4 linked regions of the Homo sapiens genome follow. The gene in region 1 interacts genetically with each later gene. Each region holds a gene or a part of one and is shown in the gene's direction. Other genes may lie near its edges.

Region 1 (8,252 bases):
TGCCTGTGGGGGGTGTGGATACATATGTGTATACACGCATGTCTGTGGGCCTGTCAGCTGCAGTGCATGCACCCCCATGCTCAGGCCTGCATGTTCACATATGCTCCATGTGTGCACTTGTGTGGCTGCCTGGTCCATGCATTGCCATGTGTGCTCACGTGTGCATGCCCGTGTGTGCGTGTGTGTGTGTGTGTCCTGTGTGGCTGCTGTGCCATGGCATGCATGTGTCCCCGGGTGCACACACATGTCCCCGTGTGCATGCTCATGTGTGTCTACACCTGTGTGTGCCTGTGTCCCCGTGTGCATGCTGATGTGTGTGTCTACATCTGTGTGTGCCTGTGTCCCCATGTGCATGCTGATGTGTCTACACCCGTGTGTGTCTGTGTGTGTCCCCATGTGCATGCTCATGTGTGCCTACACCCGTGTATGCCTGTGTCCCCGTGTGAATGCTCATGTGTGTCTATGCCCATGTGTGCCTGTGTGTGTCCCTGTGTGTATGCCCAAGTGCTTGTGCTCACATTGGCATGTGCCTCTGCGTGTGTGCACACAGACATGAGGCCAGGAACAGGTGGCCTCTCCCTCCCAGGGTCCCCCGTGCTCTCTCTCAGTCATGCCTTCCTCCCACCTCTCCAGGAAGCCCCCTGTGCTCCCTCTGGCCCTGCCTGTGTGGTTCACATGCTACTGGCCTCCATTTAATGGTTTCACTGCAGCTGTGTCTCTGAGGGCTCAGTCTTTTTTTTTTTTTTTTTTTTTTGAGATGGCGTCTCGCTCTATCACCCAGGCTGGAGGGCAGTGGCGGGATCTCGGCTCGCTCCAAGCTCCGCCTCCCAGGTTCACGCCATTCTCCTGCCTCAGCCTCCCAAGTAGCTGGGACTACAGGCACCCACCAACAGGCCCAGCTAATTTTTTGTATTTTTAGTAGAGACGGGGTTTCACTGTGTTAGTCAGGATGGTCTCGATCTCCTGACCTCGTGATCCGCCCGCCTCGGCCTCCCAAAGTGCTGGGATTACAGGCATGAGCCACCGCGCCCAGCCTTATTTTAAAAAAATTTTTTTAAAACTTTTTATTTTTTATTTTTTTTTGAGACGGAGTTTCACTCTGGTCACCCAGGCTGGAGTGCAATGGTGCGATCTTGGCTCACTGCAACCTCCGCCTCCCAGGTTCAAATCATTCTCTTGACTCAGCTGCCTGAGTAGCTGGGATTACAGGCACGTGCCACCACATCCAGCTGATTTTTGTATTTTTAGTAGAGACGGAGTTTCACCACGCTGGCCAGGCTGGTCTCAAACTCCTCACCTCAGGTGATCCACTGGCCTTGGCCTCCTGAAGTGCCTTTGTTCTCCTTTTTGCCCTTTGAAGCATGTGATCTCTGTGACCTACTCCCTGTTCTTGCACCCCCTCCCCTTTCAAAATCCTTAATAAAAACCTGCTGGTTTTGCGGCTCAGGCGGGCATCAGGGTCCCACCGATATGTGATGTCGCCCTGGGAGGCCCAGCTGTAAAAGTCCTCTCTTTGTACTCTTTCTCTTCATTTCTCAGCCAGCCAACACTTATGGAAAATAGAAAGAACCTACATTGAAATACTGGGGGCTGGTTCCCCCGATATCTGGCGCGCCAACGTGGCTTTTCTTTTTCCTGAGTGCATGTGGGGACCCGCTTCCCTTTGGTAGTTGTGTAGAAACGTTCATCGGTCCGGTTCACAGAAATGCTTGTTCGACTCAAAAAAAAAAACCAAAACTGACTCATATGGTTTAGTAATAGACTGGGTACCAAAGGGCTATTTAAAAAACAATTGCTCCTGTGGCGGGAGGGAATGCCTGGAGGCTACTTGTTTTATTTCTTATTGGAAGAACGAGGATCATCATTTTACTTTGTATAGGAGGTTCAGCTCTTTCTTTCCCTTAAAATGGGAAAATAAGGACATTGTCCCCCGAGGGCTCGTGTGATACTCCCCATTCTGAGCTCAGAACACCCAGAACTTTGAAAATTGGCTCTTGCCACATCCAGACTGCGAGTATGGGAAGGGGAAACTTTTCTGTCTGTTGTCCCTGCTACCGCCCCTCGCGTCCGTGATTCTGAACCCCATGATAAATCTCCTTTGAACCCTTTTCCTCTTTTTGATGCCAGTCCTCTTTTATGGGACTCCAATTGGCATTACGATAATTTTTCTCAACCCAGGTATGCCACTCTACCTCTTCAGCATCCCCGGGCACCTCAAATTGCTTTTTTTTTTTTTTTTTTTTTTGAGACGGAGTCTCGCTCTGTCGCCCAGGCTGGAGTGCAGTGGTGCGATCTCGGCTCACTGCAAGCTCCGCCTCCCGGGTTCACGCCATTCTCCTGCCCCAGCCTCCCGAGTAGCTGGGACTACAGGCGCCCGCCACCACGCCCGGCTAATTTTTTGTACCTTTAGTAGAGACGGGGTTTCACCGTGTTAGTCAGGATGGTCTCGATCTCCTGACCTCGTGATCCACCCGCCTCAGCCTCCCAAAGTGCTGGGATTACAGGGGTGAGCTACCGCGCCCGGCCCTTCAAATTGCTTTTTGACAGCGGATAACATCGGGTGTGGCCACCACTGCTCCTCTCCCTCAGTATCAGTGTAGATTCAGACATTCTGCTTTGTTCACCTCCAATGTGACTATTCCTATAGAGTTGTGTTAAGCTTCGTTATATGCTGTTAGTGGGGAATATCAAAATTTGGACGAACAATCAAACTATCCAATGTATTAATTGTCATTTATATACTTGTGTTAACTCCCGTTTTGACTCTAGGAAAAGTGTAATGTTGGTTCGAGCTCGAGAAGGAATCTGGATACTGGTAACTTTACCCAGACCTTGGGAATCTTCCAAAGCTGGGCAAGAGGGCAGAGGGCTAGGGGCCAGGATCGGGCCCTCCAGGCAGTGGTTGGGAGGGCACAGGGCACAGGGTGGGGGTAGGGGATGCCGAGGGTGCTTCTGACCAGCCAGCAGGACTCACAGGGAGCAGGGCTTGAGCCACGGATAACAGGACCAGTGAGGCCTGGTCCACTCTCCTGGGGGCACGTGCAGGCCGCTGGAGGGGTCTAAGCAGATGGGCCTTCCAGGAAGGACAGGTTGAGGGGTGTCCTTCCCTTGGCTGCTGGCAGGCAGAAAGCAGGCTCCAAGGGTAGGGGCAGAAAGCAGAGTTTACAGGGCGGCCAAGGGGGGGTTGGACTGGCCGCAGTGCCAGGTCTGATATGGACCATGCACTTGGCTGTCCTCCAGAACAAACCAGGACCTTGCCTCCTGCTGTGCCTGGCCACCCTTGCCTCCGGCCTGTCCACCTCTGTGGGCCCAAAGCCCCAGATGATCCAAAGGCCCTACAGTCACCAATTCCATACTCCTGGCCACAGAAGGTCACTCCTGGCCACAGAAGGGCAGTAGTTCTAGACTTTCCTACCATGACCCACAGAACAAAGTAGCTTTTACATGGAGGCCCAGTGTGTGGGTGCACACACACACGCATCTGTAACTGACCCCAAAGCCTCGGGAAGCAATGCTGGTCTTTGCTGGACCACCATGTACTTCCATGACCCCAATCCCTTCCTATCCTATTCAACTTCTAAAAGGTGCCCCTGGCCGGATGCTGGCTGTCCAAGGTGACCTGGGGTTCAAGTCCCTTTCAGATGAATGTAGGGTACAGCCCTATGGGGCTTAGCAGGTCTTCTCCCCGTGTGCGGAGACACGAGATTGTGAGAAATAAAGACACAAGACAAAGAGATAAAGAGAGAACAGCTGGGCCCGGGGGACCACTACCATCAAGACACGGAGACCAGTAGTGGCCCCGAATGGCTGGGCGCACTGATATTTATTGCATACAAGACAAGGAGGGCAGGGTAAGGAGGGTGAATCTTCCAAGTGATTGACAAGGTGAAGCAAGTCACGTGATCATAGGACAGGGGGCGCTTCCCTTTTAGGTAGCTGAAACAGAAAGAGAAGACCATACATCAGCGCTTTCTTCTATGTACTTATAAGAAAGATCAAAGACTTTAAGACTTTCACTATTTCTTCTACTGCTATCTACTACGAACTTCAAAGAGGAACCAGGAGTACGGGAGGAACATGGAAGTGGACAAGAAATGTGACCATTAAATCATAGCACCACAGGGAGGGGGTTAGGCCTCCGGATGACTGCGGGCAGGCCTGGATAACATCCAGCCTCCCACAAGAAGCTGGTGGAGCAGAGTGTTCCCTGACGCCTCCAAGGAAAGGAGACTCCCCTTCGCAGTCTTCTAAGTAACGGGTGGCTTCCCAGACAACGGCATTACTGCTTGACCAAGGAGCCCTCAAGCAGCCCTTATGCGGGAGTGACAGAGGGCTCACCTCTTGCCTTCTAGGTCACTTCTCACAATGTCCCTAGGTTATATTAGTAATGCAACAAAGAGTAATATTAAAAGCTAATGATTAATAATGTTTATACTAATGATTGATAATTATCCATGATCATGATCATTTTTATATCTAATTTGTATTATGACTATTTTTATTTTAACTGTTTTTTTTTTAAAGATGGAGTCTTGCTCTGTCGCCCAGGCTGGAGTGCAGTGGCGCAATCTCGGCTCACTGCAAGCTCCGCCTCCTGGGTTCGCGCCATTCTCCTGCCTCAGCCTCCTGAGTAGCTGGGACTACAGGTGCCCGCCACCGCGCCCGGCTAATTTTTTGTATTTTTAGTAGAGATGGGGTTTCACCGTGTTAGCCAGGATGGTCTCGATCTCCTGACCTCGTGATCCACCCGCCTCGGCCTCCCAAAGTGCTGGGATTACAGGCGTGAGCCACCGCTCCCGGCCTATTTTCTTTGTTATACTGAAACAGTTTGTGTCTTCAGTCTCTTGCCTTGGCATCTAGGTAATCCTTCGCCCACAGATGAAAGCGGAGCTCTGCTGACATTGGTGTCTTCTCCAGACGTAGTTGGTTGTCCAAATTCTTTCCCTTGGCTTTAAAGTGAGCCGGCGGTGTCCTGCTCCCAAGCCTGAGAGATGATGGGCACAGGCGACACTTTTTAGGACATGCCGATGTTTTCAGAAACAAAACAAGAAATGTTAGCCCTGAAATTCTCCATTTCACGTGTTCTTCCTGATATTAACCACACATTCTTTCCGATATTAACCACCACATCGTCTTTTTGCAATAATCTTGGCAGGGAAAAATATGCTAGCCAGGGTCCACTACGTCGATTTCAAGCACGGAAGATGGGTCACACCAGGCACTTCAAAAGACCCGTCCCTGAGGCAGCGGAGACCCCGCCCCGCCCCGGCGCGCCCACTCCTTTCGGCCAATCACTGCAGCGGGGAGCAGCTATTTGAATGTCCCCACCGCCTATCTGAAGGCCGCCCTGCCATTGGCCCCGCCGCGCCCCGCCCATCGTGGCCAGAGCTTCAAGTTCCGCAGCCCCAGTGCGGAGGGCGGAGACTGCGCCGACATGGAGCTGTTCCTCGCGGGCCGCCGGGTGCTGGTCACCGGGGCAGGCAAAGGTGGGCGGCGGGGAAAGGTGGGCAAAGGCCGGCGGCGGGCAGAGGCGGGCAGGGGACGCCTTCACTGAGCCCGCTCCCGGCAGGTATAGGGCGCGGCACGGTCCAGGCGCTGCACGCGACGGGCGCGCGGGTGGTGGCTGTGAGCCGGACTCAGGCGGATCTTGACAGCCTTGTCCGCGAGGTAGGTCCCGCCGGGTCCCAGCGCTGCGAGGCGGCGAGCCAGGAGGGGGCGGCAGCGAGCGGGGGCGGTACCTCTGTGCGCGACTCCGCCTCCCCTCGCGGGCGCTGCGCTTCTCACCGCGGCCTGGGCGCCCGCGCACCCTCTCTCGGGGCTGGTGGCCTGCGTGGGCGGCCGGGTGGTCGGCAGAGCCGCCGGGGCCCCCGGGCTCAGAAAGAGGCCGAAATGGCTGCGAAGCAGGCCCCGGGCAGGAGTCGCTCGGGCGCAGGGAGGAAGTGAACCGGCCGGAGGTAGCGCCCGGCTGCTGGCCCCACAGTCCCGACACCTTCGGAACTCCTAACTCCTTTACTTGTCCGGCTGAAAGGTCACCAGCCCCAGTCCCCAGCTGTGCCGCTTGCTGGGCACAGAGCCTCTGGTAACTGCCCCCTGATACACACAGTGCCCGGGGATAGAACCCGTGTGCGTGGACCTGGGTGACTGGGAGGCCACCGAGCGGGCGCTGGGCAGCGTGGGCCCCGTGGACCTGCTGGTGAACAACGCCGCTGTCGCCCTGCTGCAGCCCTTCCTGGAGGTCACCAAGGAGGCCTTTGACAGGTGAGCCTGTGAGGGCGGAGGAACCTCAGGGAGGGGCTGTCCTGGAGGACGCAGCAGCCCTAATCTCTGACCAGGGTCTGTCCCTCGGCCTCTAGATCCTTTGAGGTGAACCTGCGTGCGGTCATCCAGGTGTCGCAGGTGAGCTGCCCTGTGGGCTGGACGGGAATTCTCGTGAGTGATGCCAGCTCTGCCTCACGGTCTCGCTGCGATTCCAGATTGTGGCCAGGGGCTTAATAGCCCGGGGAGTCCCAGGGGCCATCGTGAATGTCTCCAGCCAGTGCTCCCAGCGGGCAGTAACTAACCATAGCGTCTACTGTGAGTGCCCCAGCTGTGCCCTCAGCCCCACCCCAGCCCCAGCCTCGCCCTCATCACCGACCCCAGCCCCAGCCAGCTTGGGTTCCTCTTCGTAGGCTCCACCAAGGGTGCCCTGGACATGCTGACCAAGGTGATGGCCCTAGAGCTCGGGCCCCACAAGGTGAGCAGGGCTGGGGTACCTCCCCCAACCTAGGACACCCCACTTGCCCTGCTGACCCCAGCTGTCCCGGTGTAGATCCGAGTGAATGCAGTAAACCCCACAGTGGTGATGACGTCCATGGGCCAGGCCACCTGGAGTGACCCCCACAAGGCCAAGACTATGCTGAACCGAATCCCACTTGGCAAGTTTGCTGGTGAGTCAGGTGGGAGCCCAGCCAGCGTGGTGCCAGCAGTCCCTGTGTGTGCCCTGGGTAGGGGTGGGAGGGAAAGATGGGCGGCAGCCTCCTTCCTCTATGCCCCTGACCCCCGCCCTGCCCACAGAGGTAGAGCACGTGGTGAACGCCATCCTCTTTCTGCTGAGTGACCGAAGTGGCATGACCACGGGTTCCACTTTGCCGGTGGAAGGGGGCTTCTGGGCCTGCTGAGCTCCCTCCACACACCTCAAGCCCCATGCCGTGCTCATCCTACCCCCAATCCCTCCAATAAACCTGATTCTGCTGCCCAGACTATGTGCTATTCCTAGGCTGCCAGCAGGTAGCTGGGGGCTTGGGGCCAGGTGTGGAACGCGGGCAGAGACCCATGACATTCACATTCCAATCCAAGGGGGAGCGTGGCTCCCACTCCTGAGGTTTTCAGGCCTGGCCAGTTCTCTGTCAGGGAGGTGGGAGGTGGTGAAAGGTCACCTCCCAAAGAGGGTGGTGAATTTCAGCAAGGTTGGCCTTCGGGCCTGTCCAGAACCTCTGGGGTGAGACGGTGTGTGCATGTGAGTGTTGATGGCCCCCTCTGTGAGTGTACAGTTGGCTCCTCTTCCTTCAAGCTAATGAGTAAGACAAAAGGGAAACAAGGAGAACGTCAAGCTTCTCCACTTCGTCGGTGATCTGAGCCACTTTGTTGAATCAGATGATGGTTTTCGGAAACTAGAAGAGCGTTTCCTCAACTTGTGCTATTCACAATGTAATGAGCATAGACACAGCACCCTGAAGTCTAATCTGCATTTTATCATCTGAAGTCTAGACAAGTAACCATAAGTCAAGCCTCCTCCCACCACGGCTGATTTCAAGCTACCAGTTAGATGTCATTTAACGTGGAGCTGGAGGAGATGCCCTCAGCACCCTGTTATGTGGTGTTTGTGTCCATAGGTCCCACAGATGTACATAACCGAGGGGCAGAGAAAACAGTCGTGTATGCAGAAATAAGTAGGAAGTGACGTTTGCCGATTTTGCTTTTAATAACACAAATTGTAAGCTTCTATAATTTGTTAATGATCATTAACAACTGGCTAGCAAAATTGTTGAGAATTCAGCAGTTGGCTTTCCTGAGCCAGTAGGAGCTGCCCCCACACAGCACAAGGCGGAAGCAGACAGTGGCCCTCATGGCACCCCCCAATCCCGAGTGACTCTAATCCCGGGACCATGGCTCCCTCCAACCCCGAGTGACTCCAATCCTGGAACCTCATGGCACCTTCCAATCCCGAGTGACTCCAATCCCGGGACCTCATGGCACCCTCCAATCCCGAGTGA
Region 2 (8,157 bases), on another chromosome or scaffold:
ACCCACCCTGATCAGAGACTAAGCAGAGAAAGCAGGGAGAGGACCTAGAGTTACTCAGTAATGACTCAGGAAGGAGACCCTAAGCTTCTACCACATGCCAGACTCTGTGCCCAGTGCAGCATAAACGTCCTCAGAACCAGCCTGGTCCCAGCCTGGCCGAGCCGGACGTTCCTGGGAAAGGTTACAGGAGGAGCAGGGCCAGGCCCACAGCACTTTTAGAAGCCCATGAAAATGTCTTCATTTCTCTTCAAATCACAAACAAAACGTGCAAAACCCATTCTGGAGTGCATCTTTTCACTGGCGACCAACCCAGTCCTAAGATAACCTTCTTAATAGTTCTATGGAGGAAGCTGCAAAGGCAGAAGTGACTACAACCCACAAAAGTCATGATGGAGCCCTGACGTGTGTGTACACACACACTACATGCACACACACACACACAACACACACACTACACACCCACCGCACATAACGCACACACATACACACTCCACACACACACCACACACTCCACACAAACATATCACACACATACCACACACATACACACCACACACATACCACACACTACACACACACACACACACACACTACACATACACACCAAACCCACATGCACACATTCACACAGCATACACACTACACACATGCACACCACACATACACCACACACACTACACACATGCACCATACACACCACACACACACCACACATTACACACATACACAACCACACACACCACACACACAATACACACACACCACACTCACTACACACACACCCCACACACAGAGCACTCCACGGTCAGCCTTCTACCCCGGAAAACTGCTTGTGCAACAGGCTGGATCTACCAGACGCTCCTCACTGTGCTCGCCTTCCAGCTCTGGGGCAGACTCCGGTGGTGGGACTGAGGGTCAGAGTCCCCAATCCTAGACCCCCACATCCACTTGTCCTCATGGGGCTGGTGCTCATTTCCCTGGGAAGCCTGGGAGAGTGGACCCAGTTCTCCTGTCCTGGGGCTCTTTTAAGTGCACCCACACTTGGCAACACTGGGGCTGGGCCCAGTGCAGGGTTCATAAAATACAGCCCTTGCACTGCCAGGGGCCTGGCACATTCTGCTATTCTTGCTATGTAATGACCCAGCAGCCCCCATCCTGGATGCTGAAATCCTACCCTTGTCGTCATGCCACAGCTGAGACAGTCAGTGTTCACCAAAGCAGGTGCATTCTCTCTCAGGACACTAGTGTTCTCCATGGGAACGCTGAGGAAGAACATCTCTGCCATCCCTGGTGTCGCTGTGAAGCTGCTTTTGCCCTTCCCAGGAGCTGACACTGCAGATGAAGAGACAGCACTGTGATTTCTGGAAGAGACAGCACTGTGATTCCTGGTCCTAATATCTTGGCTTTGTTTGGGTTTTTTTTCCAGATGACCATTCTAGGGTGATTCTGAGCCAACTGGATGGAATTCCCTGTTCAGACTACATCAATGCTTCCTACATAGATGTAAGTGGGCAGAGGTTTCTTGTTCCCCTGGCCCAGCTGGGGCATGAGCAGTAAGCACTTTCTTGTCTGGTGCCCGGAGTGTAAATTGTCACAACCTTTCTGGGCAGTTTGGCCACAAGCACAAAGGGTACGGAACTGCCCGTGCTTTACACACTGGCATCAGCATCTGGGAATTTGAATTCAAGAGACAGAGATGATCACAGAGGATGTTCACTACAGCATTATGTATATTCCTGACCAAATAGAACAGGGAGCATGGGTAGTTAAACAGATTGTGGTAAAACCATGTGCAGTGGACTATTAGAACTTGATTTGTATTAATCTTTAAAAGATCATTTAATATCAATTATAAAATTCCCATTAAAAATACAACATAAAATAAATTGTACATGTTCACCCAATTAGAGGACAGAAATGTCTGCATGTCTGCTTGTGGGTGAGTCTGGGAAAGGTTTGGCAGAAAAACAGACTAGAGAGGGGACGTATGAAGTAGGATTTGTTATTTCTGGAATTGCTGGTGAGTTTTCTTTCCTTCTTAACCTTTTCCTGTGTTTTGCAAATTTTCCATGGTGAATATGTACTGCTTTCCTAACAGCAACACCAACAAATCCTTTCAGCAAAGATAATTCTGAAAAAATATAAATCTGATGTTATTTTTTCTAGGGTTACAAAGAGAAGAATAAATTCATAGCAGCTCAAGGTAAGCTTTTTATTAATTTCTCAACGTATTTTTGGTAACGTGAATAGCTCTTATTTCCTTCTCTGTATGCCAACAAGACCAAGGACTTATACTGGATTTGTGTGTGTGTGTTTACACCTAACAGACACGTTAGATATCCATTCACACAACGGATATGTGTAGTCAGAGAAACACACACTTATTCCCACACCTATATGGTGTGAACACAGGGCACGCAATGGCCCCGGCTGCCATTCCAGCTTGTTAATACTTGCGTCAGATAACCTTGAATTTCTCTCAGCTGGCTGAGCCCTACATGGCTCCCCAAGTTTGGGCGAGGGGTTAGTGGGGTGAATAGCTTTTCAGATCAAGGCCATAACTAAGAATATACTTCAGCTGTGAAAACGTGCCCTTCACCTTGCACAGGGCTACCTTGTGTGTTGAGTACTGAATCCAGCATCACTCCGTTCCACCAGAGGTTGTCATCTGCAGGACCTGGTGTACGTGCGGTTAGATATCAGTGGAGCTGAAACCAGATTCCTCAGACTTCCTCACTCTTAGGCCAGGAGTCTTTAGGGCAATGAGCTCTGAAAGTCAGCGTCCATCAAAATCACCTGGGAAGTTGTTACAAATGCAGAATCTCTAAGAAAAAAGGACACACATGTGCACACGCAGAGGCCATCAGGAATGTGCCCAGCTGGAAACCTCAGGAAACCTGACGATCCTGGCTGAAGCAGATGAAAGCATGTGTTTCTCTCTTGCCAGCAGACACCCACAGGGAGCTAGCCCACGGCAGGACAGCAGCAGGGCCAGGGGCTTCCTTATCTCCCCGCCCATCCCCCTCAGCACGTAGCACTTAGCTCGGGACTGCAAAATAGCCGCAGCTCAGACAGGAAGTGGATAGGGGCAGAGGACTTTCTCCTAGTGACACTTTGTCTGTTGTTCACATCCCCCTCCCGAGGGACTTTAGCTCATATCGTATTGGACAGCACCATGCTGAGAGTAAGATTTTGACAAAGAGGAGGGGATTGGGAATGCAGGGTGAGGCTGGCCAGTCTCTGCCTCTCGCAAGGCTTTCACCAGCTCTCCCACACTTGGCTGTAGACCCAGCCCTCATCTGAACCCTGCTTCTTACCTGTGAACGTCATAACTCAACCTGGGCCCAATTATCTTGCCCACTGAGGAGTTCCTAGCTGGAGTGGGTGAGTGGCAGGACAGGCAGCCCCTACCGGTTCCGGAACGCTTCAGGGCATGACGTGTGTGTCCCCAACAAGCCTGAGAAGGGAGTGAACAGCTGTCCAGGGGCCAACGGCCAGGGTGCCGGGGCTGGGACCCCAAAGGGACTTCCCTTCATGCCTTTTGACTTCGAAATTGTCCTCTACACACAGGTCCCAAACAGGAAACGGTTAACGACTTCTGGAGAATGGTCTGGGAGCAAAAGTCTGCGACCATCGTCATGTTAACAAACTTGAAAGAAAGGAAAGAGGTGAGTTCCAGGCATCTGGCCCCGGTATCACTTCCTTTCAGCTGCTGCTGCCGGGCTGGGGATGTTCTTACCACTTCCTTTTCCTACTTCCCTCCCTTCCTCCCACTATCACTGCAGAAAAAAACCCAAACACATGCAGTGGCTTACAGCATTTTCTTCACGAAACAAATCCCCTGTGTCCCCAGCATCTCACTGTTATCTAATCTGTGATAACACAATGACACAAGAGTTTCCTTTTTTTCCCAAGTAAGAGTGGCCCCCGGCTGGCCCCATGGCTCTGCCTGCCTGATGAGAGACATGAATCTTAGAGTTTTAGGATGTTGAGCGTGTCATGCGGCAGAGCTCAGGCTAGAAATGAACATGATTTCGCGCTTATTATCCAGACTAGAGAAATGCTTTTGGAAAACGTTGGTATATTGAAGAAATGTTGATTTGTCATCCGAATATATTTAATTAGCTGTTTCTAATTCAAAAAAGGATGCATGTACGTTATAAGAATTTGAATCATTGACAAAGAAGAAAAGTTGAACTGATTCGTTTCCTAATGTAACAAGTACTCATTAGCATCTGCTGTGCTGGGCCAGCTCTGTCCCAGGTGCAAGGAGTAGGGGCTCAAATTCAGGGCTGAGAAGTGGTGGCTGTGGGGAGCCTGGGTGCGGGGGTGGGGTTGAGTGACAGGCAGGGAGCCATGCCATAGGCAGTGAGCTCACTCTCCAGAATGAAAGAAGAACTGGGAGCCTGAGGGACACTTACCACAGGTGGGGCGAAGTTAGGAGGCTGTGCTTCTGGCGTGTTCTGGCATGAAGGCCCGGTTCAGTGGGAGCCGTGTGTCCTGCCCGGCCCTGCTCAGGGCCTGCTGTGTCCTGAGCTCCTCAGTCATCTGCTGGCCTGGCCCCAGCAGTTCCCAGGCATTGTAGCGAGGACTGTGGGGAAGGGCTGCCATTTTTAGATGGGAGTACCAGGCCTTGGGGAGCTCAGCTGGGGCAGAAGATGGGTGGCAGGAGCCCACAGGAAGGGCAGGCTGGGAGGTGCTCTGGTCCCCGCAGTGCCAGCTTACTAATTGCCACCCAAAACACAGGAAGCAGCCTCCAGCCACCGTTTCTGGTCAGGAATAGGATGGAGGCTTTCATTCTGCTCTGGGGGGAGCTGAAACAGGACTGTGGAGGGCCACCCCTTTGCCCTTGCAAATCTTGCCCTTGTCATGCTTTGTCATGGGGAAGAGGGAAGAGTGACAGAGGGAAGTAGGGGATTCCCAGCCCAGGACTCTTCACTCTGCCTGCGCTGTAGCGGCCATGGAGGAGGACACCCACGCGAGGGAAAAGGAGGCTGACCCTTCATCAGGAGCCTCAGGGTCCCCCGTGACCCATGGCCCATAGGGACCAGTCTTCCTGGGGTTGGTGCTCCAAGCATGAGACCAGCACAGAAGCAGTGGGGCTCAAGGACGCCCTCACTTCCCTCTTTCAGTCATTCTGCTGAAAGTGTCACTGGCATTTTCTCTCCATCTTCCCCCACAACCTCCTACTGGATTTTTCCACTCCTGTGACTCAGTGCTGGGCTGCTGCCGCGTCCTCATTCTCACCAATTCAGATGAAATCATTTCTCAATAGAGTTCCCTTTTTCTTAATTGCTCACACTTCTGTTGTGGTTTCCTTGGCTTCCACATCCTGGGCTCTGCATTGCAAAACACAGCTGCCCTGGCATCTCATGATCGGGTGGGAGGGAGGCAGAGGGAGGGGGTATAAAACCAGCCACCAACACTGAGCCCTTGAGAGGCTGACACATGTTCTCAGTTCCTACTGGAGAGCCTTCAAGGTGAGAAGCTCAGGAGGGACCCCAGGGCTCCCCATAGGGCCAAGACTCACCCAAACCGGGACATGTAGGCATTTGCAATTCCCCTGGGCTGCATCAGAGATGGCCTGTGACCCACAGCCCCGCAGCCCCGCCCGGAGCCAGGTGTAAGGAGGGGGAAGTTGTCGGTAGCCGTCATAACACAATGATGCTGCTCTCTACTAAATACCAGATGCTGTTTGTTTCATAAGACTGTTAATCCTGGAGGCTTGACCACGAGCTGTGCTGCTCAGGGGCCATTCCCTGGATATACTCTCTGACTACTGGCAGGCTTGTTCCATTCCAGACATGTTTCTCTGGCAGATGAAGTAGATCTTTTCCCCCTTGAGGTGGGTCCTCATTCACTCGCGAAGTGATGGAGGACACCACCGGGCAGGTGCTGCGGGCGGTGCTGCAAAATGAAAGGGCTCCTGGAACGTGTATTTTGGGTCATTCTTGCTTCAGAGGTCGGGAAGGTAAAGAAATGGGCCTGTCTGTAGCAATGCACCCTCTTCTGCAGACTCCACGGCAGCCTCGTCCCTGCTAGAGAAAAATGAAGATCGTTAGACCAATCATAGGTTCATCACTCTTGAATGGCAGACTGGCAGTGGTGCAAATTAACTTTGTCCTTAGTGAACTGAGCAGGAAAAACACAAATTGCTGAATCCAGTGGGAAATGTCTGGGGGGAGCACCGTCCTTGCCCTCTAGCCTGAGGGTCACTTGGAGTTAGGTGCCCAGCTCTGAAGGCTACAGGCTCAGCATAACTGGTTGATGGTCAGTTAATAAAATGTATGGGATTCGTGAATGAATGAAGAAATGAGACATTGTTGCTGTCTACATCAGAAAGCCTTGGGGCATCCTAGTCATAGTTTCAAGGCTGCTGTTCACCAGTTACGCAGCCTCAGTTTCCCCATTCAAGAGGTCGACACACGTGAACTTGTTTCTCAGCTGTGGGAGCTGTGTGACTCCAGCTGGTGTGTGTGAGGCCTTCTGTAGTTGGGTGGGGGGATGTCATGATGCATTGCACCCACAGATCTATTTGCTTCTATTAAATTGTTCCGTGCAGGAAAAGTGCCATCAGTACTGGCCCGACCAAGGCTGCTGGACCTATGGAAACATCCGGGTGTGCGTGGAGGACTGCGTGGTTTTGGTCGACTACACCATCCGGAAGTTCTGCATACAGCCAGTAAGCATCTCTAGTTGCTGCCCTTCCAGAAAGATCATTTTCAGAGAGCATCATGCCCAGAGTTAACATCCTTCTGCATTTATGAAGTGCTTTGCTCCCAGCCCGGCACTGTCGCAGCCCTGGCTGAGAGGGTGCAGTGGCCAGGCTGTGATAGGCAGACATGCAAGAGGGCCAAGACACCAGAGGCCGGTGCACAAGGGTCTGCAGGCAGTGCTGGGGGCTCCTAATTCCTAGTGACTCCTCTGGGCCTCTCCAGGAGGAAGACCAGTCATTGGAGGGGCCTGGGGGTGAGGTCCTCCCTCAGTAGCACAGTGACATTTCACACACTGACTGGGAGGTGGGGTTTTTTTCTAACACTTTCCGAATTCTGTCTGAAACCTCCTCGTTATTTTCCACACTTGGGTTCTGCTAGTTCCACCACCCCAAAAGGTTTAAGAGAGAGATCAGTAAAAATATGTGTATGCAAAGCAGATGAAATCAAGATATAGAAGAAAGTTTAAAACCATAGAGAAAAGACAGAAGACCATTTTGTCAGGATTTAAAGATACAGTCATTGGCATAATTAGGTCACAAAATAAGTGTCTGAGGTTCCAAGAAGCCACAGCAAAAAAGGAAAAGGATGAGCTGATTATTCTTATCCTATCCCCTGCTGGCATCTCTCCCAGAAATGTGCACACAGGCGCACACAGGCACTCACATGCACACGCACACACATACTCCCACACACAGGCACACACATGCACACATGCACATACACCCACACACAGGCATACACATGCACACACACCCACACACAGGCACACACACGTACACCTACCCACACACAGGCACGCACATGCACATACTCCCACACACATGCATGCACATGCACACGTACACCCACACACAGGCACACACATGCACACACACGCACACAACCGTACAATGCATGCACGTTCACACACACATGTGCACACACACCCCACTCACATGCACACATGCACACATTCACACATGTGCACACACATACACCCACACACATTCACATGCACACACATGCACACACGCACACACATTCATGCACATGCATACATGTGCACACACACGCACCCACACACGCACAGATGCACACATGCACATTCACACATGTGCACACACATACATCCACACACATTCACACACGCACACGTGCACACATGCACACATTCACACATGTGCACACACACATACACGCACATGGGTGCACACGTGTACGCACCCACATTCACACATGCACACACATGCATACATGTGCACACATTCACACGTGCGCACATACACACATTCACCCACACATACATGCGCACACATGCACACATACACATGCATACATGTGCACACACATGCACACACATCTACTTCCAAATACGCTGTGTATCACCTTCCGTGATCTGGGCAAGGGAATTAAACTCATGGGCTCTGGGTCCAAAAGCTGAGAGAGGCTCTGAGGGCAGGTC
Region 3 (3,776 bases), on another chromosome or scaffold:
GGACACAGGTGTGGACACAGGTAGGAGCAGGGTCCAGGGTTCAGGCCAGCCGGGGTGGGGCCCGCTGCCACCGCCAAGCCCTGCCCTTCACAGGCAGCTGAGGGACTAAGGCCCCGGAACAACCTCCCTGGGGTCACCCCGAAGGTCTGGTCCCCTCAGGATACAGGAGGGGCTGGGTCACTGACATGGCTCTAGATGCCCCACCCTGGTGGCAGGGCTGGGGTGCAAGGGGACACCGTGTTGCTGATGGGGAGACTGAGGCACAGGGCCCTGGGGGTTCCAGGAGCAGGAGGAGGCCAGGGCTGGCCTGTGGGGCTCTGGTGTTGGCTATAGGTGAGGTGGACCCCGCAGACATTAGCGCAGCAGGGCAGGGCACTCAGGTGGCTGCCGTGGGGTGGATGGACCCGGGGTGAGGGCGCCGGGGCACCTGCCACAACCAGTGGCGGGCAGGGTGGCTGGCAGGAGGGTGGCTGGTGGGTGGGCTGCGGCTGTGAGAGAGCAGTCGGGGACGATGCCTGGCGTCCCGGCCTGGAACGGTGGCAGGTGGACTTTGCCAAGTTGTAGGGTGGGGAGGTGGGGCTTCTGGTTTTGGAGGGAGCTCTGAGGGGAGTGCGTGCAGGTGAGGGTCATCGTGGCACAGACATGGGGGGCAGTTACGACTTGCGGACTGATGGTGTGTGCGCTGGGTCCCTGGGCCAGTGGGGTAAGCAGGTGAGGAAGGGAGGCTGAGTCCATGAGAGAAACAGCTGGGGGAACTCACCCTGGGGGTCTCCAGGAGGCCTGGGAGGGAGCTCAGCACCGTGGGGTGCCTCTTTCCAGCCTGTGTCCACACTGCTGCTTGCTGGGCCTCAGTGCCCCTGATGGGCGTGTGCCTGGAGGGGGCTGGCAGTGAGCTCACTGAGGGGAGGGCTGCTTCCCTCCTGGGGAATGCCAGCCCATCCTTGCCTGGAGTCCCGGCAGGAAGGCAGCACCAGCCCTGAGGAAGGAGAAAAACCAGTTGGGCTGTGAGAGGGGTGGTGGGAGCCCTGGACATCGAGATGGGAGGAGGCAGGGCCTCCAGGGTGCCACCGTCTCTGGGTGCCCGCCAGACTTGGAGCTCTGCAGAGGGTGGTGTAGGGTCTTGATTTCCGTGGGCCCATGCTGCCCAGCTGCCTCCAAGGCTCCTGGCTCTGCAGGCGACTGGGCTCCTCTCCTGGTAAACTGCTCCCAGGTCCTGGCTTGTCCACTAGATGGGCCTGCCCCCTGGGTCTTCAGTCTCCCCGTTGGTGGGCCTGGCCCTGGCACGCCTCTCTGGGCAGGTGGGCTCCCCTGGACAATGCCCTGTGCCCTGTGACTTCACAGGTCCGGGCAGAGCACCCTGGAGGGGAGGGGAGGGGACACACGGCCCAGCTCTGAGAAAGCCCCGGGGAGGGGACAAGATGTGGAGGCTCCTGGGAACCTCATCCCGCCCTCTTCCTACACAGGACGGGAAACTGAGGCTGGGGATGGGCAGGGGCAGCTCTGGGAAGGGGGTTGTTCAGAGGGGCCTCTGCTCCCACTCGGGTCATGGCCTTCACACGCACCTCGGCCCGCAGGGGCCCCTTACTGGACACGGCCCGAGCGGATGGACAAGAAGCTGCTGGCCGTGCCGGCCGCCAACACCGTCCGCTTCCGCTGCCCAGCCGCTGGCAACCCCACTCCCTCCATCTCCTGGCTGAAGAACGGCAGGGAGTTCCGCGGCGAGCACCGCATTGGAGGCATCAAGGTGGGCGCGGCGGGGTGGCTCTGGGCCTGGCAGGCGCGGTGGTTGCTGCCTCCGCTCACTCACCCGCCCGCGTCCCGGTGCAGCTGCGGCATCAGCAGTGGAGCCTGGTCATGGAAAGCGTGGTGCCCTCGGACCGCGGCAACTACACCTGCGTCGTGGAGAACAAGTTTGGCAGCATCCGGCAGACGTACACGCTGGACGTGCTGGGTGAGGGCCCTGGGGCGGCGCGGGGGTGGGGGCGGCAGTGGCGGTGGTGGTGAGGGAGGGGGTGGCCCCTGAGCGTCATCTGCCCCCACAGAGCGCTCCCCGCACCGGCCCATCCTGCAGGCGGGGCTGCCGGCCAACCAGACGGCGGTGCTGGGCAGCGACGTGGAGTTCCACTGCAAGGTGTACAGTGACGCACAGCCCCACATCCAGTGGCTCAAGCACGTGGAGGTGAATGGCAGCAAGGTGGGCCCGGACGGCACACCCTACGTTACCGTGCTCAAGGTGGGCCACCGTGTGCACGTGGGTGCCGCCGCTGGGGCTCCTGGGCTGGCCCCAAGGGTGCCCCTTGGCTGCGGGTTGCGTGAGGATTTGGGTCTAGGGGTTGGAGCTTCGGGGGCAGAAGCTGTGGGGGTGCTTGTGGGGCCAAGTCTCAGCCACCCCACACCTCAGGGCCATAGGCAGCTGCGTTGGGACCCGTTTCCGTGTCTGCAGAGGGCCAGCCTCAGCCACTGAAGTCCCTGACATGGAGCTGCCCACGGGCTTCTTGGGGGTGGGTGCGGCTTGGGCAGCAGTGGTGCCCCAGGACAGGAGGGCAGTGTGGCCAAGCCCTCCAGGCCCCCTCTGGGCCTCAGAGGCGGTGGCTGAGCCCCGACCTGGCCGATTGGCTCTCGTCAGCTGTGTGCAGTGGGGCCCGAGCTCACTGTCTGCCCGCCTCCTGAAGCCCTTAGCTTTGTTCCCATGGCTGCCGGGTGGGGGCCACTGAATTGGGACGGTTGCGACACTCAAAGCCCAAAGAGAAACATCTGTTCAGAGAGAAGACGGTCTCTTGGGGGCGGGGAGCAGGCGCAGGGCGAGGGTGGAGTCCAGACCCCGCCCAGAGAGGCCGCCTCGGGCCCTGTCCAGGGTGCAGGTTCTGCAAGAGCCCGGGGGAGGGCAGGCCAGTGACCAGAGGTTGTCTGAGGGTCTGGGCTGGGTTGTTGGGGTGGAGGCAGAGACGTGCATCCTGTGAAACCACAGCCACCGTGAAGTGCCTCCACGCCTCCTCCAGGCAGCCTTTGGGGCTGACGCAGCCCAGCCTCGATCTGTACCTTGGGGGTCTCCCACATCCTGCCTCGTGCCCGGCGGGGCTGCCTCGGGGGCGTGCCTGAGCCGGGTCTCTTGTCCCCGCAGTCCTGGATCAGTGAGAGTGTGGAGGCCGACGTGCGCCTCCGCCTGGCCAATGTGTCGGAGCGGGACGGGGGCGAGTACCTCTGTCGAGCCACCAATTTCATAGGCGTGGCCGAGAAGGCCTTTTGGCTGAGCGTTCACGGGCCCCGAGCAGGTAACGACTCTGTCCCATGCCGGCCGGCACAAGAGCTCCAGCTCCAAGGCCCTGGCCGCGCGCCCTGCACGCCCCGCACGCCCAGCCCTGCTCGCTCCCGCCCCGGCTCGCGCTCCACTCGGGGCCGCCTCGGCAAGGCTGGCAGCTCCAGCCTCCACGGTGACCGCCCGCTTCGAGCCCTGTGGCCTGCGCCGACCCTTCCCGCACGCCTGCGACCCCCACAGGAGGTGCCCGGTGCCCACCGGGCCGGCTCCGTGCCGTCTGTGAGCACCCCTTTGCGCCTCTCTCCACCCCTGCCCGCTGCCTGCTCGCTTCCGCAGCCTGTGTGTCCCTGTGTCCATCCTCCACCTGCACCCGCCCGGCTCTGCGCTAACCCGCATGCTGCCTGCCCGCCTGCCGCTCACCTGGGACAGAGGACTCGCCGGTGGAGGGGCCTGGCTTCGGGCTCAGTACCGGTGTACCAGGCGGAGGGCCCTCAGCCGCGTGGCGGTGACCAAGTTGGCG
Region 4 (8,157 bases), 3.9 Mb from region 1:
TTTCCTTCTAAGGCCAAGGAAACGTAGTCGCTTTCTAAACCAAGGAGTCTGAAGCCGTGGAGCCTCTGCTCTCCTGAGGTGATAGAACCATTCCCTGACCCGGGTGGGGCTAGTGAGTTTCTTGAGTAAACTACCCACGCACCATTCTTTTTGTTTTGTTTTTGTTCTTCTAGAGGTAGGATCTTGCTATGTTGCCCAGGCTGGTCTCAAACTCCTGGGCTCAAGCAATTCTCTCACCTCAGCCTCCCAAGTAGCTGGGACTACAGGCGTGCACCCCCCCGCCTCCACCCAGCTAATTTTATTTTATTTTTATAGAGCTGGGGTCTTGCTATGTTGCCCAAGCTGGTCTTGAACTCCTGGTCTCAAGCAATCCTCCTACTTCAGCATCCCAAAGTGCTGGGATTACAGATGTTAGCCACCATGCCCTGCCCCAACATTCTTTTATGGCCCTGGGGATCACTTCAGCTCAAACCCCTTGCTCAGGAAGATGTGGCTCAGAGTTGGACTTCTTGGACCCAGAAGCAAGTGCTTTTGACGCTGCACACAAAGACTTTCTGAAATTAATTTAGAAAAGCTGTATGCCAGGTGTGGTGGCCCACGCCTTTAATCCCAGCGCTTTGGAAGGCTGAGGTGCGTTGATCACTTGAGGTTAGGAGTTTGAGACCACCCTGGTCAACGTGGTAAAACCCCATCTCTACTGAAAAAAAAAACCAAAAATTATCTGGGCATGGTGGCAGCCTCCTGTAATCCCAGCTACTCGGGAGGTTGAGGCAGGAGAATCTCTTGAACCCGGAAGGCAGGGGTTGCAGTGAGCTGAGATCGCTCCACTGCACTCTAACCTAGGCAACAGAGCGAGACTCCACCCCAAAAAGAAAGAAAGAAAAACTCTGAACTCTGGGAACAACTCTGGGATGAGGTTACTTTGGAATGCAGTCGCAGGTTCCCTCTACATGTAGCCTTTGCTTCTGCCTTCCCCACTACATCTTGGAGAAGGTTACTCCTCCCACACTTCCTGGGACCACCTGAGTACCATTCCTGGACCTCTTCCCCATAGAGAATTCTGACTTCCAACCCTCTTTGTAGGGATATTATACCCTGCCTGCTCTGCCCTGCTCTTTTCTGGCTGTGGTGGGCTCAGTCTGCATACCACTAGGGACAATGAGGAGCCAGGCTTGTTGGGGAGGGGTCTCCTTCTCCCACTCCTCCCGCCGTGGACCTCACCTGACCCTCTCTCCTCTTGCAGCACAGAGTTGATGAGACGCGTCCGTCGCTTCCAGATTGCTCAGTACAAGTGCCTGGTGATCAAGTATGCCAAAGACACTCGCTACAGCAGCAGCTTCTGCACACATGACCGGTCAGTCCCTGCCCCCTGCAGTCCTGTCCAGTGGAAAATCACAAGGCACAGGACACACTGTTAGGACTCTCTTTAATGGGGATGGTTAATCATTTGAACATTGAATGATTCAAATCAGCACACTTTCCAAGGTGCTTGGCAAGGTAGCGCACACTCTCCACTCCCTGGGCTGGAGCCAGTGGTTCTCCACTGAGGGTGATTTTGCCGCCAGGGTCCATTTGACAATGTTTGAAGACATTTCTAGTTGTTGCAACTGGAGGGGGGAGGGGATGCTTTTGGGCTTTAATGTGTAGAAATCAGGGACACTGCTGCTAAGGGTCCTATGGTGCAGAGGACGGCCCCCATGCAAGAACGAGCTGGCCCCAAATGTCAGGAGCCTGCCAGTGTTCAGAAACTCTGCCGTAGGGTTTCAGCTTCACACAGGCTGCAGACTGGTTTGGTTTGGCCTGCACGTTGATTTTTGTTTAATTTTTTAGTTGTCCGTTGTTGGCTGGCTCCCCCGTCACCTGGCAGCCTTCACGCTTCCCTGTTTTATGTGTAGCTGTTTGAGCTCGCTGGACATTTCCGCCTGCAACCTCAGTTTGGGAGTTAAATTCACTTCCTTGGCAGCAGATGTGGGCCTGATGTTTCTGAGCCTGAGACGCTTTGCTTGGTCCTCTGGACTTGTCCACCTGGGCACCCAGTGGCAAAGCCATGCTGTGCCACACATTATAGGGCTTCAGCCTCAGAGCCCTGGCTGGGAGCTGTATCCGAGAGTTGCTATGGCTGTGCAGAGAACAGATCCACCCGGCGTGTGGCCTTCGGTGGGAGCTGAGGGGCTCCTGAAGCCAGATGCTGGTGGAGTGGAGGGTGCTTGGGGCTTGGAGTTGCATGTGGGAATTTAACCGCACTTCGTGACCATGCTGTCTGATGTAGGTCATTTACTTTTCCAAATTTGCTTCCTCATTCCTAAGATGCGATGTCCACGGCACAGGGTGGTGTTACACCTGGTGGGGACAGGGAAAGCAGAGGAGGTCACTTCGTTCCAGCTGTTGGAAGTACAACTTCTGGAGTCAGTCAGATCCGGGATTAAATATGAGTTCTGCCCGTGTGTCACAAGTCATCTCTAACACGGGCCACAGAGGCCAAGGCTGGGCCAGCAGCATTGATGGCTCGAGAGGCTGCCCTTGCAGGGGCCACAGCTGGCCTCCCACCTGCCCTCACTTTGTCTTTCTCTGTTTAGGGAGGGAAGAGGGAATTTAAAATGCCCAAAATACTGTTTCACACATTCTTTCCAGAACTCGAAGTAGGATTATAGCAAGGTAATAACGAAACAATAGTTGTAAAGTATGTTTTTTTGTTTGTTTGTTGTTTGTTTTTGGGACAGGGTCTCTCTCTGTCACCCAGGCTGGAGTGCAGTGGCTCAATCATAGCTTACTGTTACGTGACCCCAAACCCTTGGGCTCAAGTGATCGTCCCACCTCAGCCCCCTGAGCAGGTGGGACTACAGGCGCACACCACCACACCCAGTTAATTTTTACATTTTTTTCACACAGTGTCTCGCTGTGTTACCCAGGCTGGTCTCGAACTCCTGAGTTCAAGTGATCCTCCCGTCTTGGCCTCCCCAAAGATTACGGGCATGAGCTGCTGTGTCTGGCCAGAATACAGGATTTTAAAAATTTATGTTTTGCAACATAATTAATATAAAGACAAATATAACCCAGGCCCAGTTCTAGTTATTCATTCTTCTGAATTTTAAAAGGAAACATTTGGCTGGCCCCTAATGGTATCATGGGCCCTGGTACCTGATGAAGTTGGCCTAGTCTGCCCCCAGCTCCTGAACAGTGGAAGAGTTTTTAGTCTCATTGAGCTTTGTACTGGACATTACTAATTTCTAATCCAAAGCATCAAGTGAAGTGGCTTGTATAAATAACTGGTTTTCCTCTGGGAGGCTAAGGCGGGTGGATCACTTAAAAGTTAGGAGTCTGAGACCAGCCTGGCCAACATGGTGAAACCCCATGTCTGCTAAAAATACAAAAATTAGCTGGGTGTGATGGTGTGTGCCAGTAGTCCCAGCTACTCTTGTGGCTGAGGTGGGAGAATCGCTTGAGACCCTTGAGAATTGGGAGGTAGAGATTGCAGGGAGCCGAGATGGCGCCACTGCACTCCAGCCTGGGTGACAGAGCAAGACTCTGTTTCATAAAAAATAAATAAATAACTGGTTTTCTGGACGAGGGCCTTTCCCATAGGTGCTAACTTCTCAAAGCCCGGCTGGGTGAACACTGAGCCTGCTTTGCAGGTAGCAGGTGGTCACGACAGTGCCATTCCCTGGCCCCTGCATTGTGGCTTCTGGCCTCCCTGGCCCTGCTCACGCTCTGGCTTTCTCTTCCCAGGAACACCATGGAGGCACTGCCCGCCTGCCTGCTCCGAGACGTGGCCCAGGAGGCCCTGGGCGTGGCTGTCATAGGCATCGACGAGGGGCAGTTTGTAAGTTGGCTTGTCTTGGCATCACTCTTCCTGCCAGCTTCCGCTCTGTCCTCCCGTTTTCCCTCGCTGACTTGGAAGTTATCTGATCTTTTAGTAAAATAACAAGGTTAAATAGCTACAACTAGTGTTGGAATACCCTCTGAAGGCCCCTTTCTAGTTTCCCTGTCATAGTGTCATAGTCTTGTAGGATTCGTTTTACTTTTTTTTTTTTTTTTTTGAGACGGAGTTTTGCTCTTGTTGCCCAGGCCGGAGTACGATGGCACAATCTCACCGCAAACTTTGCTTCCTGGGTTCAAGCAATTCTCTCCTGTCTCAGCCTCCCGAGTAGCTGGGATTACAGGCATGCGCCACCACGCCCAGCTAATTTTATATTTTTAGTAGAGATGGGGTTTCTCCATGTTGGTCAAGCTGGTCTCAAACTCCCAACCTCAGGTGATCCGCCCCGCCTTGAACTCCCAAAGCGCTGGGATTACAGGCATGAGCTACCACACCTGGCCATTGTACCTTTTTAAAAATACATATATCTATTTACTGGCAAGATGCAGTGACTCACACCTGTAATCTCAGCCTGTGGGAGGCCAAGGTGGACAGATCACTTGAGCCCAGGAGTTGGAGACTCACCTGGGCAACATAGTAAAACCCCATCTCTACCAAAAAAAAAAAGAAATTAGCCAGTCATAGCAGCGCACACCTGTGGTCCCTGCTACTCAGGAGGCTGAGGCAGAAGGATGGAGCCTGGGAGGTCGAGGCTGCAGTGAGTGGTGATAGCACCACTGCACTCCAGCCCGGGCGACAAGGCCAGACCCTGTCTCAAAAAAAAAAGGGGGAGGTGGGGAGTAATGTTTGGTTTGCCTCATGGTTCCTTTTGCTTGTTTCTTATACGTTTATTTTCTTGTTGTTGAAGTACCTTTTTTAGTAGTTTTTGCAGCCAGGAGGTATAGATGGGAAGCTGCCAGTCTTTGTATGGAAATCTTTCTTTTGTCATCTAGTTTAAGCTGGGCAGCAAGAGGTAGGTTGATCTTGTGTGGGTTTGGGTTTTTTTTTTTTTTTTGAGACGGAGTCTTACTCTGTCGCCCAGGCTGGAGTGCAATGGCGTGATCTCGGCTCACTGCAACCTCTGCCACCCGGATTCAAGCGATTTTCCCACCTCGCCTCCCAAGTAGGTGGGATTACAGGCACCCACCATCATGCCTGGCTAATTTTTGTAGAGACAAGGGTTCACCATGTTGGCTAGGCTGGTCTTGAACTCCTGACCTCAGGTGATCCACCCGCCTTGGCTTCCCAAAGTGTTGGAATTACAGGCATGAGCCGCCGTGCCCGGCCTTTTTAATTTTTATTTTTTTTGAGATGGAGTCTTGCTCTGTTGCCCTGGCTGGAGTGGAGTGACGTGATCTTAGCTCACAGCAACCTCCGCCTTTTGGGTTCAAGCAGTTCTGCCTCATCCTTCCGGGTAGCTGGGATCACAGGTGCGTGCCACCATGCGTAGCTCATTTATGTATTTTTAATAGAGATGGGGTTTCACCATGTTGGCCAGCTGGTCTGGAACTCCTGACCTCAGGTGATCCGCATGCCTCAGCTCCCAAAGTGCTGGGATTACAGGCGTGAGCCACCACGCCTGGTCTTGATCTTGTTGCTTTGAAAAGTAGCAGCGCTGGTCATTGTGTTTTTGCTCAGAGGAAGGCCGCCATCTCTCTAATGTTACCTCTGGTCAGGTATTCTATCTGTTCTCTCTCAGCACAATGTGTGTAGGGGAAGCTTTGTTTCATTTATCCTGCTTTATAGCTGGTGTGCCTTTTCATTTCTGGGGAAGGAATGAAGCCATTATCACTTCAGGTATTTCTCTCCTCATCCATCTCTGAGGTGTTCTGGGTTCCATCTTCCAGAGTGTGTTTTGTTTCAGTGACTATTTTTACATCTGCTGCTCTAATTCATCATGCTCCGTTTTGTTTGACAAGTTACTGTTGGGTTATTTTTAAATTTATGCTGTTCCTTCCATTATGTTCCTGAAAATCTTTTCTTAGACTTTTCCAGATTTTTCTATTTCCTCAGGAACATATTCTGTGGTTGAGTTTCTGGGTTATTTTCTGTTATCTTAGTTTTCTTTCCTCTGCTTTGGAGATTTTATTTTTGTTAGTTTATCACAAAGAATGAAACTGAAACTCTCTCCAAGGGGTTTAGCAGACTTGACCTCTTAGGTACTTTTAGGGTTGCCTCGAAGTACACAATGTGGTGGTTTGATATAAACATAACAGGAATTTATTTCTCGCTCACAGACCCCCTACGTGGTTCCAGGCCGGTTGATGGGGAGGCCGCCCACGAGGCGGCTTAGGTCGCCCTGGCTGGCTGTATACAGACACGGAGGGGAAGAGACGTGGCGGAGCCCCTGGGTGTGAGGTTTTCATGGGCCTGACCAGAAGCTGCAAACGTCACTTCTGCTGATCTTTCAAAGACTAGAACCTGGGCACAGGGCCACCTATACGTTTAGTATACTTAGTCCAGTTCGTTTTTTGTTTGTTTTTAAAAACAGTCTTGCTCTGTGGCCCAGGCTGGAGTGCAGTGGCGCAGTCTCGGCTCACTATAACCTCCATCTCCCAGGTTCAAGTGATTCTCCCGCCTCAGCCTCCTGAGTAGCTGGGATTACAGGCTTCTGCCACCATGCCCAGCTAACCTTTTGTATTTTTAGTAGAGACGGGGTTTCATCATGTTGACCGGGCTGGTCTGGAACTCCTAACCTCAGGTGATCTGCCTGCCTCAGCCTCCCAAAGTGCTGGGATTACAGGCGTGAGCCACCACGCCTGGCCACACTTAGTCTAGTTCTATACCCTGGAGGAAGAATAAATGAGTTGGTTTGGTGAGTGCTTCGAGGTCTCTACCCGCCCTGCCTCCCAGCACAGAGCCAGGCCGCTCTGGCCTGAATACCCTGCCCGGACGTCACAGGGCCTGTCCCCTCAAAAGGCCAGTCCTGCCTTCCTGGTTCTGTTCTTGCCCAACATTCTGTATGAGTCACAGCTGCAAATTCCATTCCCGTGGGGAGGCTGACGGGTCCCTTCCCCTGTGCGGGGCATCTGCCCTGTGGAGTTGAGGCTGCCAGTGTCCGCTCTGGGTTCCCGACCACCCGGCAGCTGGCATCTCCTCCCCGCTTGGGTATGGCCATTCCGTTTCTGACCTTCAGAGGTGCGCCCCTGAGCACCCCCATGCCTCTGCGTACGTGGAGACGTCGTTGTTGCTGCCCCGTGCTTGAGGGACTCCTGGCGAGAAAGTGAGCCCAGGCTGGGAATAGGGCTGCAGCTGTTCTCTTTTGCTCCCAAACTGTGGCCTCAGAATGCATCCAGGGATTTTGCATCAGCTTTGGGGACATGGCCCTCTCAGAACAAGGAAGCTTCAGCTTTGGCAAGGCTCTCCCTCCTTCAGACCTGCCGCTGTGAGTTGTTCAATAGCTCTGTTCTCCTGGCTCTGCGTAAACCTTGTTGACAGAGGCTGACCCAGACCCCCGAGGCAGAAACCTTTCCCTTCTCCTTCCTCGACATCCAAATGCCCTGAGTCAGGAGCCAGCGTATGAAGTCCTGTCCCCTGTTCAGCCTATAGGAGGGATTTCTCGGTCTACTTCCTCCCTGGCCAGCAAGTAAAACTTGAGTTCATTCAGTGAGTATTTATTACACCCTACCCAGACATCAGCATTCTGCCCTGGCCTCTGTGTGCCCTTGTTCTCTTCAAGAAGTTCCGGGTCACCAGCCTGACCAACATGGAGAAACTCCGTCTCTACTAAAAATACAAAAATTAGCCAGGCGTGGTGGCGCATGCCTGTAATCCCAGCTACTTGGGAGGCTGAGGCAGGAGAATCGCTTGAACCCGGTAGGCGAAGGTTGCAGTGAGCCAAGATCGCCCCATTGCACTCCAAGCCTGGGCAACAACAAGAGCAAAACTCAGTCTCAAAACAAAACAAAACAAAAGAAGTTCAGGGTCTTCCCATTGCAAGCAGTTCTAGATCGAGGAGAGGGGTTCCTAGCATGGGACCCAGCAGAAGGACTGTCCTTCGCTCCTTCATTGTCTACGTGGACAGTGGATGAAGCCCAGCCGAACCTGCCTTGTTCCCGTTTTCTGGGTCAGCAGGGAAAGCCTTTCACAGAGTAGCCACCGTGCCATCCTGAGGAAGGCCCTGGGTCAGAAGCTTCTGTGCTTCTTTGTACCCCGGGCGAGACACACAGGTGCTCACACTGCTCTGTAGAAACTGTTGGCATCCAAGAGAGACTCACCTGGAAATCTCTGGAAAACCTGAAGCTCCTAGCTGGGGGTGCTGTGCTTCAGATGCTGGTGGTGGGTGGGCACCCTTGCATCAA

Evidence for each region.
Region 2: changes in DCXR (region 1) and PTPRE together harm fitness more than expected from each alone (negative genetic interaction), as found in Homo sapiens cells (one large-scale study listed by BioGRID).
Region 3: changes in DCXR (region 1) and FGFR3 together harm fitness more than expected from each alone (negative genetic interaction), as found in Homo sapiens cells (one large-scale study listed by BioGRID).
Region 4: changes in DCXR (region 1) and TK1 together harm fitness more than expected from each alone (negative genetic interaction), as found in Homo sapiens cells (one large-scale study listed by BioGRID).

The regions. Positions count from the first base shown.
Region 1 is NC_000017.11:82,034,865-82,043,116, reverse strand, and holds DCXR (L-xylulose reductase), read left to right. Parts: upstream 1-5,419; 5' UTR 5,420-5,434; coding exon 5,435-5,486; intron 5,487-5,569; coding exon 5,570-5,667; intron 5,668-6,103; coding exon 6,104-6,258; intron 6,259-6,353; coding exon 6,354-6,396; intron 6,397-6,473; coding exon 6,474-6,573; intron 6,574-6,668; coding exon 6,669-6,733; intron 6,734-6,808; coding exon 6,809-6,926; intron 6,927-7,053; coding exon 7,054-7,157; 3' UTR 7,158-7,259; downstream 7,260-8,252. UniProt on the Homo sapiens protein: Catalyzes the NADPH-dependent reduction of several pentoses, tetroses, trioses, alpha-dicarbonyl compounds and L-xylulose. Participates in the uronate cycle of glucose metabolism.
Region 2 is NC_000010.11:128,059,513-128,067,669, forward strand, and holds part of PTPRE (receptor-type tyrosine-protein phosphatase epsilon isoform 1 precursor), read left to right. Parts: intron 1-1,174; exon of another isoform or gene 1,175-1,332; intron 1,333-1,426; coding exon 1,427-1,503; intron 1,504-2,166; coding exon 2,167-2,203; intron 2,204-2,614; exon of another isoform or gene 2,615-2,913; intron 2,914-3,570; coding exon 3,571-3,668; intron 3,669-6,562; coding exon 6,563-6,682; intron 6,683-8,157. UniProt on the Homo sapiens protein: Isoform 1 plays a critical role in signaling transduction pathways and phosphoprotein network topology in red blood cells. May play a role in osteoclast formation and function.
Region 3 is NC_000004.12:1,799,793-1,803,568, forward strand, and holds part of FGFR3 (fibroblast growth factor receptor 3 isoform 1 precursor), read left to right. Parts: coding exon 1-20; intron 21-1,574; coding exon 1,575-1,744; intron 1,745-1,827; coding exon 1,828-1,951; intron 1,952-2,042; coding exon 2,043-2,233; intron 2,234-3,121; coding exon of another isoform or gene 3,122-3,272; intron 3,273-3,776.
Region 4 is NC_000017.11:78,178,252-78,186,408, reverse strand, and holds part of TK1 (thymidine kinase, cytosolic), read left to right. Parts: intron 1-1,243; coding exon 1,244-1,354; intron 1,355-3,726; coding exon 3,727-3,820; intron 3,821-8,157. UniProt on the Homo sapiens protein: Cell-cycle-regulated enzyme of importance in nucleotide metabolism. Catalyzes the first enzymatic step in the salvage pathway converting thymidine into thymidine monophosphate.